2 separate regions of the Homo sapiens genome follow, and region 2 is linked to region 1. A link means that fine-mapping ties the variant in region 1 to the expression of a gene that starts in the linked region. Tissue or cell type: whole blood. Region 1 holds a variant in brackets; the other region holds the start of a gene. All regions are shown on one strand. Distances are between the middles of the regions.

Region 1 (10,457 bases):
GGCTGAGGATGGAGTTAGCAGAGATGGTGCCACCGCACTCCAGCCTGGGCAACAAGAGCAAAACTCTGTCTCAAGGAAAACTAAATTAAATTAAATTCAGAAAAGGGGGTCCTTGTTGTAGGTCCCTCCTCCCTGAGAAAAAGGCCAGACTCATTCCCAGGAGGGTGGAGCTTTGGTCTACTTAACTAGGCATTCCCTTGAGGAAAGATTCTCGTAGATTGAATATCTGGAAGTAACAATGAAAATCAAGTGTCCACCCGCTTCTCACTCCAACAAGGAAGGAGGGGGACATCCTGCAAACACTCCCCGCCATCCCTGTCACTGCTCTCTTCACCTCCAATCCTGCTCTTCTGCCAGCTGAGCCAGAGCCCAGCCGATGGTGTCTGATGGAGGCAAGCACTGAATGCCAGCCTTCGCTTCCTCACTCTCCTTGTTGAGCCACTGGACTGGCAAGTTTGCCCACAGCTTAAACATAATATCCCAGCAGCACCTGGAGATTGGCGTTTATGAACAGTAATAAAAAGTGTCATTTTAGCAGATCAGCTCCTGGAAGGATCCTGGGGAATCCATCAAAGCTCTATTTACTGAGTAAAGTGAACTCCTTTTCCCAATCGATGAGCAATAATAACCAAGGCAACTCCTCTGTACCCTACTCTTAAATCTGTGCTTACTCCCCTTTTTAATAACTAGGGACTTTTTCAAAGAAAATCTTTAACGCTTCAAATGGTCTGTACTGTTTGGAGTACACAGAGCCCCACTAGATACAGAGCCCCACAGCCAAGCCCTCAGAGGGAAAGGCTCTACTGCTACGCGACCCAGGAGATTCAAGCCTCTTCTCCTCAACCTTTCTTTCCCCAACCCCCAACACTCACTCTGGTCTCAAAAAAGACAAGACCGAAACCAAGTCAAGCCGAAACCATGCCAAGAGCCTGCACTTTTAAAATCTCAGTTACCCAAATCCCGCTCTAGGTCTCTTCATTTCCTACCTCTCTTCTGTGTATGCAGATGAGTCCCTGGGCTTCCACCCTGGTCACCTCTCTTCCTCTCCTCCTCTCCACCAATCCTATGAGCTGAGCACTGAGAGCATCTGTCCCAGGAGATGTAGGTGCCCAGCTAACAGCTTTACAGGGATAATGAGTTTGCCAAGATGTGGCAGGAAGTGTTTTCTCCCCAGACAACTGGCCAGGCAGCATTTCACACTGCATATTTTTACTAAACCTCCTTGTCCTCAAGGCTCCTGTCTCACCGGGGACAGCGACAGTTGGTTGTTCTCACATACTTGCATGGACTCCCATGTTTGGATAATTCAGAGAAGCAGGAATTTCAAAGACGCTGCAGTAGCTGTCTGCAGAACCTTTCAAGGAGCAGGAAGTGCTCATGTTGGCAGCGTCGAGAATGTGCAGAAGGAACAGGGGCTGTGGGACCCACACAAGCGGAAGGTGGAGAAGTAATGAAAGCAGACATTTATTTGGGGTGACGGATGAAGCTACAGGCCACCAGAGTTCAGCACTTTGCAGTCACTGATTCCTATTTCTTGCCAACTACTTAAGGTGCCTGAATTAGGGCAAATCTATTTTCAAGTATCTCACATGGACACATCGTCCTTTTTCATTCCTGGACATTTGGATCAGAAACTAGTGGTATCTTATGATGACTTGTAAGATGAAGGAGACAGAAATAAACAAACCTCCAGCCTGGAAGGTGAAGATCATCTCTGCTCCTCCCAACCCCACCTCCACTCCCACAAGAGCACCCTTCAGTACAGAATAAAGGCACACGCATCTTCAAGACCACCCAACACCTACAGCGACAACTACGGAAAGGATGGAGGAAAAGGAGGTTCCCTGCTGTTCTCTTCAAGACAAAGCATTTGGTAAAGTGCCCAGCCTAGCTCTGACCCCACTGAGGGGAGAAGAATGACTTGTCATCACTGGTGTGGGTTTTCTAGACTTTGAGAAGCATCCCTTCCAAACAGGCATAAATCCTACATGGAGTTCCTGGTCTGCAGGAAGACCTGAAGATGGAGAGGATTAAGCCACAGAAGCAATGGTCATTTGCAGGCAGAGGACTCTAGCTTCCAAGATTTTTGTTCGGGAATCTGGAATTCAAACTTATGTTACCACTCGTTTTACAACTTGAATCCCTAGCTAAATGATGCAAGAAAACAGAGGAAAAAAGGGGTAACTGCTTCTGGAAACTGACAGTTAAATGCTGGTTATTAACAATGACTGGGTCCAAAAATGCAAAAGGAAAACAAATACATACTTGGCCCAGTTTCTAACTAGTTTTCTGCCATCAAGGCAAAAGCCAGCTGCTTTGTTAATTATTCAGGAGGTGGGTTCTGAAATGGCATAAAAGGGAAGCAAGTCAATAGTGGGGAATTTGCATATGCAGATTGAAATGCAAAAGAGTGTCTCCACCTATGGGGTGCAGTGGCTGTTCCTATGCAGTAAATTCAATACATTTAGGGTGGCAAATACGTGTATACTCTCTCAAGCCTCCAAAACTCAGTCCTAAGAAACAGGAGAGAAGGAATGGTGGCGAGACTTATGTCTGAAATGGGGTGACTGAGCTCTGTAAGAGGCGGTGTTGTCCCAGCCCATTATCAATCTGGTGTGGAAATTGATTAGCAAATAAGAGACATGATACGTTTATTTCCTTCATGGTACATAAACATTGGGAAGTGACCCTGTTCCAATATTCCTTAAACAAAAGACAAGTGACCCTGCTTGTTTCATGGTATTAACAAGTTCAATGGTAATAACAGTGAAAGAAAACCCAAAACCACATCCTTTAAGAATTACTGTAACTTCCACTCAGATGACCGAGACACCTTGAAATAGTTGTAGTCTTGCCAAAATATCTGAGGCATCACTGACACCAAAATCGAAGGTGACAGTGTGGGTTTGATTTATTTCTTTCCACTGCAACTTTGATACCAGCCCTGGAATTCAGCAGCACAACACCTTGTTATGTACTGCACAGCCAGCTGAATTTGCCTAACTTTCATCAAAGGTCCAAACTGTAAAGTTACACTGTGACAAAGACCCTATTCCTCTTGAGAGACACAGAGCAATACTCCTCTAGAGGTAGCAAGGTAGGAAAACCCTTGGGAATTGTTGAATTCCCTTTAGGGAAATGCCAAGACAGGATATTATTAGAGAAAAGTCTAGAAGGATATACAATGGCAATTACGGGGACTTCATCTTTTACCTTGTGTGGTTCTGATTTTTAACGACAACCAAGAATTGCAATTATAATGTGCTAAAGGTATGTAACAGGTCCTTGACAATATTTGCTGACTAACCCATTTTTTCATCTATATTTTCTGGTGACCACAATTGCTCCTCAGCCAGGCTCCCAGCTTTCACACTTGCCCCCGCTAGAGTCTATTCTCACACAGCAGCCAGGTGATCTCTTTCAAACCTAAGTCAGATCCCACACTTCTGCTCCCCCTTCATTCCGACCAAGACCCAAAGTCCTACGTGATTCTGCCTTGGCCAGCACCCCCTTTCCACCCACACTGCCTTCCTCGAGCTCGTCTGCACCAGCTCCCACTGCCCAGAATGCCCTTCCTTTAGAGAGCCACGGGGCTCATCCCACTTCAGGTTTTTGCTCAAGTATCACCTACACAATGAGGCTCACTCTGACCCCATTAAAAATGCACTCTGCTATGTCACCCCTTCACCTCCCCCATCTCCTTCTACTTATTCCATAGCTCTTGTCACCTTTAAATGGACTAATCTGTTATGTTTATTATGTTCACTGTCTGCTGCCCCTGCACCCCACTAACATGTTGGCTTCACAAAGCAAGGATTTTTGTTTTGATCTCGCATGCATTCCAAGCACTCAGAATAGTGCCCGATTTGATAAATATTTGTCAAATGAATGGTTTTTAAAGCATTTCTATTTATAAAAAGAAAGGATGCTACAGTGTTCCGATATTGGTAAGCCAGCCTGGCACTCTTCTCAAAATAGCAGGCAACTAACAAAAAAACCCTGTGCATACTCCAGCATGGAGTAAGTCTCATTAGACATGGTCAGTCTCTGGCCAAGACATCCCATGATAAAAAGTACCAGTGATTACAAACCCCCTTCAGCCATACACTGCTTATTACTCAACGTGAACTGTGAAGTCTACATCTAATGTATGGTGATCCCAGGAGCCAACTTATCCAACAAAGGGTCTGAATATTAAGTCAACACCTCTCTCTTTCATAAATTTCCTAGGAATTGGGTTCATGGTCTATGGCTCTTCCTCAGTACTGTTCTTTCTCGTTTTTCTTTGTGCCTTCAAATAGGAACTGCTTAGGTCTAATATTTCCAGCTCTGGCCTTCATCTCTAATTTCCATCTCTACAACTATTTCTACTAACGTGTCACATGTCTTCTATCTGGTTTTCAAAGAAAGAGGAAAACAGATCCTTAAGATCCAAGTTGTTGGGTCAAAACTCTAGTCCCGATATAAGCCAAGATAAAGCCTCATTTGTGCAAAACATGGGGAAGGATGAAATTAACATTTAATATCACTTTAAAGCCTTCCGTGCCTGCTTCCAAACCCTGCAGAATTATGGAGATTGAAGGCTTTGGCTGGTGAGCAGGGACCTCCATGTTGGCCTCTCAACCGGTTTGGGGGTATGTGGGTGAAGGTGGGGGAGAGCACTCTGCTGGGCTATCCACTGCGCAAGCACCTAGGAAATCGACTGACCTTTCTTTGCCCAGGAGACCCTCCTCTCACTGGAGTGCACGTAATCTTCAAATACCGTCTGCAAGACTGTGGCTCGCTCTCGGATTTCCTGGGGGCCAACAGCATGGGATTTCT[G/C]AGAGGGCGACGGAAGGATTAAAGGAGAGATAGAGTCAAGGTCAGGAATAATGAAGCAGTTTATAATAGATTTAATAACAGTAAAATCACACAGTAACCACCTAGGGCCAACAAGGGTAATCCTTTCAATATTACTAGGAAAAAAGGGAGCTATAGAGATGTCAAAGTCAAGTAAGGATGAGGGTGGCTTTATGAGAGAGAACATCAGGTCTGTTTACTTATTTACTTACTTTTCTTCCTGACCTCTTACCATGCATGTTCAAAATCAAAGACCATTGGAGACACTTTGGAATTTTCCAAGTCCAATTCAGACATTTAAAACATCACTGAACATGAGCTGTTTTCAAATGGGTCTTGGATCTCCTAGGAATCTTCACCTTTCCCTCACGCGCATCAGTGGAACACCGACAATTTCTCTTCATGAGCACTCCACAGTGACCTGCCTAACATTCTGCTTTTAAAAGTTACCCCATCCTTGAATTTCAGAGCAGGCTTCCTCAGTGCCTAGAGCGGTTCAGACTTCTAGTGTTTCAAATTTATTCCTCCAGCCCATGGCCACTGTGGCCAGGAACCTATTAAGGAGTGAGTGGGCTGTTCCAGGACAACACACTCAAAGACTGCCTGGATCTTTGCAGCAAATCGTCCCTGTGTAAGAAGTAGCATCTGTGTGCATGCAAAGAGCCTACAGATGGAAAATGTTAATAAAATAGACAATTATTTTCTTTTCATCCTTTAACAGTACCAGAGAAAAAAATTTCCTTTTTAAATATCCCCGCTAAAAACTAGTGGCTTTTGTCTCCAATATCGTAAAACAAACATGAGTGCTTTCTACTGAATGTGAAATCAAGAGAACACAGATTCTTCCACCCAATGAGGCCAACCTGCCAAGTGACACTGATCACTTGAGTGGTGCTAGTGCCTCTACTTCCACCTGCCACCCTGGTGTGAACCCCCGGGGAAAATCCAGAGTGAGACCGGGTCGTGCTGCTTAACCTTGTAGAGGACGGTGTATGAGCGCCTGCATCTGGCCTCACTAAGACTCCCTGAGCCTCTCTTTCACCTTTAAGGCTGACAGAGGAAGAACAAAGGGGAGGAAAGAAAAAGCCTCATTCTCTGGATCGACGTTCATCTCTATATTAAGAGACTTAACAACGTGAAAATGTTTTTAGTTTAGTCAAATCATTCCTGCTACCTGTTTGGTTGATGACAGTCTCGCTGATTTCACAGTTCAATACAAGGTCCCCCTAAGGGTTCTATCCGCTAAAATGTCAGGAGAAGAGTCACTCAGGAGCCGTGTTACCAAAGTGGACATTTGCTATTGTCATTAACAAGGATTTTTTTTTTTTTACCCTCTTAACTGATGTGAAATGCAAACTTTTTTTTGCTGCCCTCCTTTCGTTAAGCCACCTCAGCAGCGCAACTGTCACCTTCCCTGTGTTTTTTTTTTTTTTTAATATGAATGTGAAATTAGCGAGGATGCCCTTTCCCCTGGCGGACAGAATCCTCTGTTATTAAAAAGTAAAGCACTTTAATAATGAAAACTTTTTCCTCTTTTTCTTGTGTTTTAACTGTTTAAAATTAATGAGAAGGGCAGAATGGTTGTCAAAGCAATATTGAAAGCCGGGCAGCCAGGACCGAATAAGCACAAAAATCCCTCTAGAGTGTTAAATAAACAGAGCTCCAGCCCTCTCCGAATCCCTCTGTTGGTTATTGTATACATTCTGTAACAGCTCTCAGAATAGATCTGAGAGCCAGGGAGGCAGAGAGGTTTCAGAATTCCAATAAAGGCCTCAAATTAAAGACAGCCTGGTGCGAATTCCAGGAGAAAATTAAAGAGACCTCAAGCTTAAGTGACAGGTGACTTGCTTCTGTGTCACAACTGTCAGGGGATTTAGTGATAATATGGCAATATATTACAAAGGGCTTTTCTTATTCCCCCCTTTAGGTTTCAAAATGAGGCATCTTTTCTTCCCAACCAAAAAAAAAAAAAATTACATATATATAATGTGAGTGTGTATACAAGCGAAATACGTAGGGAAAAAAAAAACAGGATAGAACTAGGTTCACAGGTTTGAAATGATAAGGTCAGTTTTAGTAAAATATAAGAAAAAGTTAATGGCAGAAAAAAATATATACAATACTTAGGAAAAAAAAAATCTTACTCCTCCCTAACCCCTGCTTCCAGAAATACCTTATTTTAAAATTGCCCCTCTTGAGAATGAATGAGGTATTTTTCAGTTGTCTTCTGGGGAGGACAGTCTAAATTTAAACTGAAGACAGAGGGGGGCAGAGTTATGCAGCACCATCTCAGCCCCCGACAGGTAAAATGCTCCTATAATGAGAGCGGGTCAAACCCCTGAGGGCACATGGATACCTGGCAGGGCTGGCTCTCCCACCCTCCAAGACACAGAGTCAGTACTGGTTAATGAAGCTAACTTCAACTAGTGGACCATGGGTAGTTTAGAAAAACACATTTCCAACCATCCATCCGCACGCAATGCACCTTTGTCTCTAACATCCTACTGATCTTGGAAAACACAGGCCATCAGAAAGGATGAGCAGGGGGCTCTGAACTTATTTTAAGATCTCGCAATGCCAGCAACGGCTCCTTTGTTGGGATAAGTTTACAGGTATATTTCACAGGACAAAAACGCTTGTAGGAAAAACATGGTTGGGTGTGTGTATACTTTGATGATGAAGATTTCACACCTATCAAGAAGCAACAGATGAGTCTAAGATAAATAGGCTGGACTATTTTTATTATAAAAAGTAATAGCAAAGGTGGGAGGTTTTTGTGAAAGCCTGCACCTTGATATTGCCAACTTCCAAGGTATTTTTAAGCAAAATGGAAGGGTTTTGTTTTAATCACTTTATTGCCAAGCTGAGTTTTACCCCCATGGTCCCTAGAACCTTCTGAGTGCTTCCCAGTAAAGTTGAAAGATCAAATTTATTCTCTTTGTAGGTAGGTGAACATTCACACACCCAGACATAGCTATATATGTTTTATATACCTAAATATGAAATATACATTTTACAGATGCTTCACTCGCTTTCTTTCTGTTCACAGAAGCCCAAAAATGTATGTGCCAAAGGGACATTTACCATGGGCTTCAATCACGCTGGGTGAAGGAGAGGGGCACTGTAATGAGGTGTCTGGCTATCTGAACGAAAGGCCTAGCTACTGAACCCACATTTACATGCCTGGCATTAGTTCACATGCTAGAGAACTGCTCAAATTGAGGACAGCAATTAAGACACACGTTATTTCTTACGCATAACAGATTTAAAAGTTGTATCCAGCATCTACTTTATTCTTCTTACTACTGACATGAATCACACATAAAATACTCTCTCGGGTTGTGTATATCTATGTGATAATTAGTAACACAGTCAATTTAGTTTAGTTTTTCTTTTTCCTCTGAATTCAAGTTAAACTTGGCTCAGCAAGCCAGGTCTTCACCAACATGACACCTACAACGTAGGATGGTTAATTTAGCTTTCTAAGTTAACCAGTTATATCATGAAAGCCCAAACTTACTCAGCTTTTCTTAAAAAAAAAAAAAAAAAAAATCACCAAACCTTAAAAATATCCAAGCATTCACTACTGTCTATCAAGGTAGGAGCTGGGGCTGAGATCATGAGACAGAGTTTCTAGACCTAAGAATCTATGAGGTCTGGAACTCTACAGGGCACTTTATACCTCGTTTTATTTAAATCTCACAGCAATTGTATGTTTTACAGATGGGAAAACTGAGACTGGGGAGAAGATAATCTGCCTGAGATTGCAGAGCTAACAGCTGGGAAGCAAGGATTCAAACTCAAACTCATATCTATCTGGGACCTGGCTCTTACTCATGAAGTTAGAGCCACTCCTCAAGTCTCAGGAAGTCCTTGAGGCTGGCCTCAAGCCAGGGAAAGTCTTAAGGAGAAGAATTTATGCTGCAAGGCCACAGAAGGGCAGATGCTACCAAAAAAAAACGACTGTAGCTTGTTGCTGACAGAGTGGAGGGAGATGCAGCTGCTCCGCTCCTTCTCTGGGGACGTGTCCTTCAGGAGAGGCTTCCTGCCCTTCTACAGCTTCCCTGCGTTGCGCAGACACACAGTGATCAACTCCCTGGAGAGAAATGATCTGCACTCGGGGATAAAGACTGACACCAATGCCAGGCCCAGAAAGAGTATACCTGAGACGACGTTTGATCAAACTTACTATCTCATTGTGTAATTGTACTACTTGCCTTTATTTCTAGAGAGCTGGCAGATGCTAATGTTCCACTTATTATGATACAGCAAAAAAGGGCACTGGGATTCATGTCCCTGAGTCTGGGCTTTAATTCCACATCTGCTACTAACTTGTATGACTACAAATAATCCTGATAGTTACAGTAATAATAAAAAATGCCCTTTGGGCCGCGTGTGGTGGCTCATGCTTGTAATCCCAGCACTTTGGGAGGCCAAGATGGGCAGATCACCTGAGGTCAGGAGTTTGAGGCCAGCCTGGCCAAGATGGTGAAACCCCGTCTCTACTAAAAATACAAAAGTTAGCCGGGCATGGTGGTGTGTGTCTGTAATCGAGCTACTTGGGAGGCTGAGGCAGGAGAATCGGTGGAACCCAGGAGGCAGAGGTTGCAATAAGCTGAGGTCACGCCAGTGCATTCCAGCCTGGGAGACACAGCAAGACTCCATCTCAAAAAAAAAAAAAGCCCTTTGGTCCTATGTTTTATACTTGGGACTCCAGGACTATTTCCCACACAATCCTCTGACGTCCTTAAAAGAACACTATTTTATCTCAACTTTACGTGCGAAGAAACTGAGGCTTAGAAAGGTCCAGTCCAGGCCGGGTGCAGTGGCTCATGCCTGTAATCCCAGCACTTTGGGAGGCTGAGGCGGGCGGATCACAAAGTCAAGAGATTGAGACCATCCTGGCCAACATAGTGAAACCCCGTCTCTACTAAAAATACGAAAATTAGGTGGGCATGGTGGCATGCGCCTGTATTCCCAGCTACTTGGGAGGCTGAGGCAGAACTGCTTGAACCTGGGAGGCAGAGGTTGTAGTGAGCCAAGATCGTGCCACTGTACTCCAGCCTGGCGATAGAGCGAGACTCCATCTCAAAAAAAAAAAAAAAAAGAAAAAAAAAAGAAAAAAGAAAAAAGAAAGGTCCGATCACAGGCTGGTGACAGATGAGGAACGTGACCCTGAGGCGTGCTCTTAGCCACTCTGCTACACTGCCTCTCCGAAAAGAAACTAAGGCTTAGAGAGGTCCAGTCCCTGCCCAAGGTCACACACTGGTGACAGATGAGGAACATGACCCTAAGGCCATGCTCTTAGCCACTCTGCTACACTGCCTCCTCCAACAGATCCACATCTGCTCCCTGCTGATCCCACAGAGCTGCCCTGGAGCCATAATGAAGTATCTGGGGGAACATTAAAAAAGAAACCAAAAGGCCGGCTACGGTGGCTCACACCTGTAATCCCAGCACTTTGGGAGACCAAGGCGGGTGAATCATGGGGTCAGGAGTTCGAGACCAGCCTGACCAACATGGTGAAACCCTGTCTCTACTAAAAATACGAAAAAATTAGCTGGGCGTGGTGGCATGTGCCTGTAGTCCCAGCTGCTCAAGAGGCTGAGGCAGAAGAA
Region 2 (10,296 bases), 50 kb after region 1:
TCCTGCATCCCATGAGGCAGCCCATTCTGTTCATGACCCATTCTAGGAATCAGGAAGCTGTCTCTGACATTTATGCAAGATCTGCATCCTTGAACATCTACCTAATAGTCTGAGGTATACTTTCTGCAGCAACACAGAACAAGCTTACTTCCTCTTAACACATAACATTCCTTCATATATCACATAACTCTCTTTTCTTTCTTCTTTGGACTCAATATTTCAAACAGGACACAACTTTAGATCCTTTATCATCTTGGTCACCCTTTATTCCTATGTCAACATCTCTCTAAAAGCAAGTACTCAGAGTTAAACCCATTAGGTTTTCCATTGCTCTTAGGCTGAACTAAAAAATCTGTAATATTGCCAGGTGCCATGGATCATGCCTGTAATCCCAGCACTTTGTGAGGCTGAGGTGAGCTGATTGCTTGAGGCCAGGAGTTCGAGACCAGCCTGGGCAATATGGTGAAACCCTGTCTCTACAAAAAAATACAAAAATTAGCTGGGCATGGTGGTGCATGTCTGTAGTCCCAGCTACCTGGAGGCTAAGTTGGGGGCATCACCTGAGCCCGGGAGGTCAAGGCTGGATTGAGTCGTGATGACGCCATGATGCCACTGCTCTCCAGCCTGGGTGACAGAGTAAGACCCTCGCTCAAAAAAAAAAAAAAAAAAAAACTGTAATATGATCAACAAAGCCTTCTAGAATCTGACCTCTGGCCACCTCACCAGCTTCAGCTTTACTCTCTGCCACTCGGGTCTTCCTTCAGTTCCTAGAATGTGCTGTGCTCCTTCCTCCTCCTTTGCACATGCTACTCCCACATCCAGGACTCCACTCTGCCCTCTGGCTGGCCACCCTGTACTCATCCTTCAGATGGAGGCTGACCAACTCCTTCCTCAGAAGAGCCTTTCCTGACCTCTCTTCACCCAGTCAAGCCAAGGTGCTCTGTTCTTGGCTCTCCTGGCACCCGTATTCTCCTCCATAGCATTCGACAAAATAATAAGCATAGCACGGAACTCGTTGTTTTATGTCTGTCTTTCCCGTTAGATTGTAAGCTCCACAAGAAAGGGGCCAGTCTGTCCTACATAGCACTGTATCCCCTGTATAGGCCCCTGTCTGGCAGAGTAAGCACTCAACAAATACTTGTAAGATGAATGAATAACACACAATGGAATTATCCCTTTCCACCAGCTGGATACGGTTCTACTACTTGTTAGCTTTTCTCCCCCAGCATCCAAAACACATTCATTTAGCAGTTGTCAAGAAGCTTCGTTCTGAAGATACAAAGTAGATTTGCCAAGCCCTTGAGGAAGTTACACACTAGCAGAGGAGACAAAAGTATAAAGGCATAAATCCAACCTCTACATTGGTGCTACAGAAGAGGTACATAAAAAAGGCTATGAGAGCACCAACAAAAGCTAGACTAACATGGCCTCCTTCTGGCAAAGGAGAGGGAGGCAAGAAAACCAAGAATGCTTCGTGAGGTAGCCTCTGAGCAGAGAGGGAGCAAGGACATATCTGAATCTACTAAAAATTACTACTAAAAATCTAAAATCTACTAAAAATCTACTAAAAAATTCGTTTGAGTCTCTGTTGCCGCACCTGTAAAATGAGGGGATTTTGGCAGATGACCTCTAGGGCCCATCAAGACCTGAGAGTCTAAGATGCCATGGCTTTGATATTAATAAACATACTGAGTAGTTACTATATGCCAAGGAGTATACTAAGTACTCACATGTATTCTCTCATTTATCAACACAGGTACTGTTATCATCTCATTTTAAGATGCAAACATGGAGGCAGAGATGTGACGTAATTTGTCCCAGAATCACTGAAGGAACCAGGCTTTCCCCAGGCATCATGATTCTACATTCTAGAGGCCTCACAACAATACTATAATCCCTTTTATTAACTGCATCCTCTTTGCTTTAGAAAACATGTGTATGCTGGAAACTTACTCTTTCTGCTCAACATTATAGTTTTGCCTTGTATAGTCTTAATCCACATGGATTTGGTTTTTTATACATAGTGCGAGATAAGGTTCCAATTTCAGTTTTTAAATTCACACAACCACACAACCAATTGTTCCAGTGCCACTTATTAAAAATGTCAGCTTTTCCTAAGCAATTTGCAGTGTCATCTCGGTCATGAATAAAATTTCCATTTTTGTATTGGTCTGCTTCTGGGCTCTCTTTTCTCCTTTGCTGGTCAATTTGTACAGTTTTGCACCTTATTCCAGACTGTCTGAAGAAATAGAGCTTCATAATAATTCTTAATTTTTGATAAGTTAAAAAAAAAAAAGAAAACATCATGTGTAGTGATTCCAATTTTGAGTTGTTCTCTAAAAGGACATACACCAAAATGGCAACAAGCATTGTCTGAGTATGGCAATTATGAGTGGGTTTTTAAAAATCTTTTTTCCTAATTTTCTATAATAAATTTGTATTAATATCAGAAATTTTTTTTTGTTTTGCTTTTGTTTTGAGACAGTCTCACACTGTCACCCCAGCTGGAGTGCAGTGATCTCTGCTCACTGCAACCTCCACTGGTTCCTGGGTTCAAGTGATTCTCGTGCCTCAGCCTCCCGAGTGGCTGGGATCACAGGCACCCACCACCACACCCAGCTATTTTTGTGTTTGTTTTTTGTTTTTGTTTTTTTTTTTTGAGACAGAGTCTCGCTCTGTCGCCCAGGCTGGAGTGCAGTGGCGCAATCTCGGCTCACTGCAAGCTCCGCCTCCTGGGTTCACAGCATTGTCCTGCCTCAGCCTCCCGAGTGGCTTGGACTATAGTCACCCACCACCAGCCACCACACCCGGCTAATTTTTTGTATTTTTAATAGAGACGGGGTTTCACTGTGTTAGCCAGGATGGTCTCGATCTCCTGACCTCGTGATCCACCGGCCTCGGCCTCCCAAAGTGCTGGGATTACAGGCGTGAGCCACTGCGCCAAGCCTTTTTTTTGTATTTTTAGTAGAGATGGGGTTTCACCGTGTTGGCCAGGCTGGTCTCCAACTCCTGACCTCAAGTGATCTGCCTGCCTCGGCCTCCCAAAGTGATGAGATTACAGGTGTGAGCCACCTCGCCCAGCCCAGAAAGTATTTTTAGAGAGAAAATTTCTGCATAGTGTTAGATACAGCATAATTTAAGCTGTTAGTCTTTCTAAATCCAGTATATTAGCTACCCATCTCAAGTTCAGGCTACTGGCAAGTCTCATCAGCATATCCATCATTCTCATTCACGACATCAATGAAAATGTAGATCTAGGCCTGGCTGGCTCACGCCTGTAATCCCAGCACTGTGGGAGGCCGAGGTGGGCAGATCACAAGGTCGGGAGATGGAGACCATCCTGGCTAACACACAGTGAAACCCCATCTCTATTAAAAATTCAAAAAAATTAGCCGGGTGTGGTGGTGGGCACCTGTAGTCCCAGCTACTCAAGAGGCTGAGGCAGGAGAATGGTGTGAACTCAGGAGGCAGAGCTTGCAGTGAGCAGAGATCGCGCCACTGCACTCCAGCCTGGGAGACAGAGCGAGACTCCATCTCAAAAAAACAAAACAAAACAAAACAAAAAACGTAGATCTAGACAAGGCCACCGCAGACACCTGTCATCACTGCATTAATTAATCCCCTTTTGATAACCATAAAACTAGGTAGCCTATATGTATTTACTCAATGCTTCTTATGTGTTAGTTACCAGGCTCTGCAGAGGACACAAGCACCCCACTGACCTCCTGATGTAGCAATCTATTATCCAAAATGGAGCCAAAACTACTTTATACTGTTGGCATTTATTAAGTGCTTCTATGGGCCAGACAACGTATAGTCTTCATGTATACTATCTCAATGAATCCTTACAATAGTCTTCTATGGAGTAGAAATTATTGTTCTCATTTTATAGATAGGAAAAGTGAGAATCAGAAAGATTAAGTGACTTGCTCCAAGGTCACAGAGCTAGTGTGCAGCAAGGGCAGCATCCGAATCCCAAGTGTATCCTATTCCAAATCCCATGCTCCCAGTGGCTCTTCTATCCTTCTCCCCGCTCCACCCAGATGCAGCTACACTTGGCTAGCTGGACTCCTTACTGCCAAACATCTAAATCCTAAAGTTTGATGATCACTTTATGATTTTAATCAGTCTTTCTGTCCTGTAGTCCTCTTTTCTAAGAGACAAATCAACTATCCTAGAAACCAGTTTTCAGTTACTGCTTAAGTTAATTCTAGGGCATCTTACCCCTCTCTAGCAATGGGATTATATCAATGAAACCGATTTTCCTATCCCCCTCCATTGCATGGGGATGAAAATCTGTCCCATTTTTGAAAGCTCTTCAAAAAAACTCCTAGTTGCCAGTCCTCATTCCTGAAACAAACGAACCTTCCTCATGGCGACCAAAAGAGTTAAACTCAAAAATATCTGAAGAGACTTATTCTGAGCCAAGTATGAGTGACCATGGCCCATGATCCAGCCCTCGAGAGGTCCTGAGAACATGTGCCCAAGGTGGTCGGGGTGCAGCTTTTTTTTTTTTTTTTGAGACGGAGTCTCGTTCTGTTGCCCAGGCTGGAGTGCAATGGCATGATCTCGGCTCACTGCAAGCTCCGCCTCCTGGGTTCACGCCATTCTCCTGCCTCAGCCTCCCGAGTAGCTGGGACTACAGGCGCCCACCACCACGCCCAGCTAATTTTTTGTATTTTTAGTAGAGACGGGGGTTTCATCTTGTTAGCCAGGATGGTCTCGATCTCCTGACCTCGTGATCCGCCTGCCTCGGCCTCCCAAAGTGCTGGGATTACAGGCGTGAGCCACCGCGCCCGGCCGCGGCTTGGTTTTATACATTCTAGAGAGGCATGAGACATCAAATACATTTCAGAAATACACTGGTTTTGTCCAGAAAGGTGGGACAACTCAAAGCGGGGGCTTCCAGGCTATAGGTAAATTTAAACATTTTCTAGTTGACGGTTGAGTTTGTCTAAACACCTGGGATGGATACAAAGAAAATGCTCAGGTTAAGATAAAAGATTGTGGAGACCAAGGTTCTTTTCAAGTCTTTAGTGGCTGCCCTTAGAGACAACAGACAAGTGTTTCCTATTCAGATCTTTGAAAGGTGGTAGACTCTTAATCTCTTTAGGATTGGGAGGGCCTGGAAGAAAAAGATCTAGCTATGTTAATAGAGATTCTTTGCAGATGCAAATGTCCACCCCGCCCGCCCCCCCCAAAGAACAGCTTTGCAAAGCCATTTCAAAATGTGGCAAAGAAACATGTTTAGGGGTAATATTTTAACTTTCTTCTTTGTCACATAATGTTAGGCCAGAGCCAGTTTGGAAAGTAAGTCACGATATATAGGGTTAAATGAAAGCCATCTGATGAGAATTTATGGTTTGTAGGGCATGACTCTTCCCAGACAGGAATGTGGGCAAGATAAAAAAAAAAATCAGAGCTTAGTCCGCACTCAGTCGAGGAAACTGGCTTAGAGAAGTTAAGCTTTGGCCTGGGACTTGCGCCGGAACTTCAGGTCCTACCTTCCACGGGAAACAGCCTCTAATTCCTTCCTTTACTTTTCTAGGCGCAGGAGCCAGCTCCCCGCCCCTCCACACCGCTCCACTCCCCGCTTCCAGGCGCATCCCTGCGGGTGGTGTTCCGGTTAGAGACACGTGTTTCGGCGCAACTTGTCCCGAAGCTGCCCGGTGTCTTTCTCCCGCTTAACTCCGTGAATGACTCGAAACCCGACTCCAAGGCACGGCTGCAGCTCGCGGCGCGCCCACAGCCGGGCCGCGGGTGGGGACGGAGCTGAAGCCGGGTCAGAACTCACCCGACTCGCCTGGGCTGGGGGACGTCTGGAGAACGTCCTGGGGTTGTCGAAGAGCGAACCGTCGGCGGCTGCCATGGTCTGCGTGGGTGACGCGTGGTGCAGCAGCGAGCCCGGTGCGCAGACTGCTGGGCCCGGGACCCCACGTGGGACGCGCGAGGACCCTGCGCCACCGCCCCTTCCGGGTCCGGAACGGCTCCAGCTGTACGGACTCGTCCCGAGGGGAGCCGGGGACGGCGGCACCGGGCGGGTAGGGACAAGACTACCGCGCGTGCCCCCGCCTGGTGGCAGCCCCTCTCTGCGTCCCTCGCGGCCTGGCAAAATTACATTCGGCCGAGAGTTCACGCTGGGGAAGCTCTCTGAATGCCTCTGAGAAGCGAGATCCGGCGCCATCTCACCGACGAGCCTCCCCTTTACCGCCCCGTGCGTTTCCTCAGCACTTTAGGAACTAAAGCCTGTCTGGGTAGCTCCCTAACAGGCTCTGGAGCTCAATCCCTGGGCAGGGAAAAGGGGGTCCTCGGGGCTCCCCGCTCGCTGTCCTTTTTCTGGACAGGCAGTTCCTTGGCCACCTGGTAGGGCCGCGTTGCCTGGCAACGGCGGGGTCCTTCTTGGCTCGGCGGCGCTCGGGGCCTGAGGGGAGAAAACCGCCGCGGAGGGCGCTGGGGGTGGCGGCGGCGGTCCGGGAGGTGGTCGCGCGACTGCGTGGAGCGCCAGGGCGTCCGACCTCTGCACCTGAGAGAAGATGAACACGGCCGACCAGGCCCGGGTGGGGCCCGCGGACGACGGGCCTGCGCCGTCTGGGGAGGAGGAGGGAGAGGGGGGCGGCGAGGCGGGCGGGAAGGAGCCAGCAGCGGACGCGGCCCCGGGGCCCAGCGCTGCATTCCGCCTCATGGTGACTCGGCGGGAGCCGGCCGTGAAGCTGCAGTATGCGGTGAGCGGCCTGGAACCGCTGGCTTGGTCCGAGGACCACCGCGTGTCTGTGTCCACGGCCCGCAGCATCGCTGTGCTGGAGCTCATCTGCGACGTGCACAACCCGGGCCAGGACCTGGTTATCCACCGCACCTCGGTGCCCGCACCGCTCAACAGCTGTCTCCTCAAAGTAAGTCATCCCCCGCCATCCCTGGGGTCTTCCCCTGTCCCCCTCTCGCGGCCGCATCATCCGTCCCAGGGGAATCCGATCCCACACTCTGTCCGGGGATTTCCCTCTTCGCACCGAGCGCTGGGGATTTATTAAGCAGCCAGGGTTACCACAGCTTAAAAAAAAAAAAAGAAAAGCTCTGCAGCTGTCTGCACCCTGTTTCCCCAGGTCACCCGCCGCCGCAAACACAGGTACACACCCAGGGGGCTTCCCGGAGTTGAGTCCCAGGAACCCCTCCTTCGCCCCTCCGTCGGGCCCGCACATGGAGCGGGTTACTCGATGGTGCTTTCTGAGACTCCACCCCCTGTAGATCCAACCCGGGGCCTGCCTCTGTCGTTGCTGCTATTGTTTGGGGCCGACTTTCCGAGGTTCTTGGCTGGCTTTGTCTACTGTGTGTGTCCTCCTCTCGCGCCTCTTTAGCTTCAGAAAAGAAAAACTGGTCCCATCCATTGTCTTAATTGTTTCAGTGACTTTATTATGAATGGTCCTCGCCTCTCCTTGGGCAAACGGGTAAATACTGGATCTCGGGGTTTGTACTTTAGTTTTTCTTTACTAGCTAAACATCTTTGGGATGTTGAATGAAAATAAAGATTCGAAACAACTACCTATCTTAAACTTCAAGCGCAAGGTCAAGTAGTAAGCCATAGCGTTCCTTTTAGTTGCTTAGAGGTGTAAAAACTTTCCATATATCCTTGATAGAGGTGTACGCTTACATGTGAACTGTCAGTGTATATTCATACATTCAATAGATATTTGAATACCATTCTGCTTGGTGCTGCCCCATGTTCTGGAAATAAAGCAGTGTACAAAACAGAACCCCTGCCCTCATGAAGCTTACATTCTTTGGCAAGTCAAGCACAAATGATAAGGTCCTGTCAGGTAGTGATAAGCACTGTAAAGATGTGTATCCGCACATAGAGAACATGTTTATGTGTTCGTAAACTCTTATTTTGGAAAACCATTGAAAATATGAGTCATTAGCTATAGGTAGGGTGCAGATAACCCTCATCACTTTGTAGCATACTTAATTCAAGTTTCAAACATCTTTCTGTTGTTAGATTGTTAGTCAGCTTGTATGACTAAGCTTCCTCTAAGATCTTCTTGAAGAAGATATGAACACATTTGTTCAAGTGTAAACAAATCAGATAGACAGATGCAACCCTATGAAATTGAGAAATACAAAAGGAGGGAGGCAGAAGAAAGGTGATTTAAAAGGTGTATCTTCTGCTGTAAAGGAATTTAACTGTTTCCAAGGATGTTCATCCGCACAGCAACTCAAGGAAAGTATGTATGTCAGTATAGTAGACATCGAATACCTTAGCAGAGAGAATGTAAAGAAAGGAGGGAGTAGTAAGGGGAGAGACTTATGGGGCAGGTCATCTGGTGGTGAATCTGCAGCAGTCCTAAAGAAGGTAGTGTTTGGTTTGTAAGAGGAAGGAAGGAAAGGGCATTCCAGGCGGCAGGAATGAGGCATTCATCCCATGTGCATACACGTTTAAGTCATGAACATAATTAATTATTGTTTGTATAATGACGGATCAGTACATGAGCTCAAGTAGGTCTTCTAGAGAGTCCGAGAAAGTAAGATGAGACCAGTTTGTGGACTTGGAAGGTCGGTATGAGGAAGTTGGCTTCAATCTAGGAAGTCTTTAAGATGCTGTTACAGTTTCATTAGCATAGAGTGACCTGCTGTGGTTCAGGAACATTACTGGATAGAGGCAAGAAGATGATTGTTGTGATCAGTGTAAAATAAAAGTGAAGAGACTGGGCTTTGGCACAAGATAGGCCTATCTATAAAAGGGGGATAATGAAGCGTTGTTTAGGTTTTTTGGAAGATTAAACACACATAATCACTTGGCCCAGTTCTTGGCACGCTGTAAATGCTCAAGGTGAAAATATAATGAGTTGGGCCGGGCGCGGTGGCTCACGCCTGTAATCCCAGCACTTTGGGAGGCCGAGGCGAGCGGATCACGAGGTCAGGAGATCGAGACCATCCTGGCTAACACAGTGAAACCCCGTTTCTACTAAAAATACAAAAAATTAGCCGGGCGTGGTGGCGGGCGCCTGTAGTCCTAGCTACTGGGAGGCTGAGGCAGGAGAATGGCGTGAATCCGGGAGGCGGAGCTTGCTATGAGCCAAGATTGCGCCACTGTACTCCAGCCTGGGCGACAGAGCCAGACTCCGTCTCAAAAAAAAAGAAAGAAAATATAATGCAGTTATACAGGTATGAAGGAGTAGGAGTCTGGATTAATGTCGTGGTTGTGGACATGAGTATTCTGATAAAATTTTGACTGTCATTTTGCCTCAGTTAACATTTACCACAACTGCTAACTAGTAACAGGAAATCCTTATATAGCTCTCTTATAGTTGACAAATGGCTTCTATGAAATTAATTAGTAACATCTTCCCCTTCTGTACTGTTGTTTTTTTTTTAATATGCACATCACATAAACCATCAGTCATTTAGCAGTCTTTTTAGACTGATTGAAGTGAATGAATGCTGAGTTGACCCTGCAGTTCTACAAGAGCCCTCTGTGGGTTAAAACTGGTGTGACGGTAGGAATGTAAAGAAGTCTGTGTCAGCACTTTGATGACTCCACCCATTGGCAGTCTGTGGATTTAAATCTGCTCGGTGCCGTGCAGCATGCCTTCGCGCTAACCTAAATGGTGGACAGTCTGCAGCGCAGATGACAGTTTTAGTGTAGCACTGTTAGAAAGCTAGGTACTAAACACCTTTGAAGCTTTTGCTCTATAATTCTGTTATTTAGATTATGAATTTGCAGGAAAATCTGCAGTTATGTAATAGTTCAGACATTAATTATCAGCTGTTTTATAAGATTGTATGATATAAAGGTGGACAGTATAAATCTGAAAAGCAATGAAATAGTGATTTAAGAATGTCAGAATTGTTTTTCCCATTGGACTACTGATTTAGTGACTCATCTAGTGAGACATTTGTGTATAGTTCCAAATTCTGATAATATTTGTGTACCGAATTGTATTGTGCATCAATTGTTAGGAGCCTTAGAAAGTATTAACTTCATCTGCTACATTAAGTTAAATAACTGTTGCCTGTCTTTGGACTCTATTACCTGTCCTCAAGAAGCTTACTGTCTAAAAGCTTCAAGTGAATTTTTGTCAGGTGCTTACAAAATGCCTAACAGTTAGTATTAAAAGTATTTGCCATTAAAAGTGATGGTGAAAACCGCAATTACTTTTGCACCAACCTAATAGTGGTCAACTGGAAACTGGATGGTGTACAATTAAATGATTGGCTGCGGGCAGGCCTCTGGGAGCTGGACTTTTTAAGTATACTCCTTGGGCATCTGAATACTTGATTTGTTAACAGTTTTGTGATAGGGAGAGT

What was found.
Region 2: DDX31 starts here. The variant in region 1 is fine-mapped to the expression of DDX31 in whole blood (TOPMed, PIP above 0.99).

The regions. Positions count from the first base shown.
Region 1 is chr9:132,613,623-132,624,079 of GRCh38, forward strand. DDX31 (DEAD-box helicase 31) reads right to left here. Exons shown (of 20, transcript NM_022779.9): 18 at 4,708-4,819. Among named protein-coding and RNA genes, the nearest start is that of BARHL1, 36 kb to the left of the region's middle. The variant G/C (reference allele first, on the strand shown) is at 4,822.
Region 2 is chr9:132,664,066-132,674,361 of GRCh38, forward strand. DDX31 (DEAD-box helicase 31) reads right to left here and starts at 5,918. Exons shown (of 20, transcript NM_022779.9): 1 at 5,795-5,918. The coding sequence starts at 5,869. It overlaps GTF3C4 (general transcription factor IIIC subunit 4), which reads left to right and starts at 6,399. Exons shown (of 5, transcript NM_012204.4): 1 at 6,399-6,890. The coding sequence starts at 6,534. RefSeq lists enhancers at 5,775-6,642, 6,328-6,407, 9,502-9,551 and silencers at 5,988-6,137, 6,558-6,687.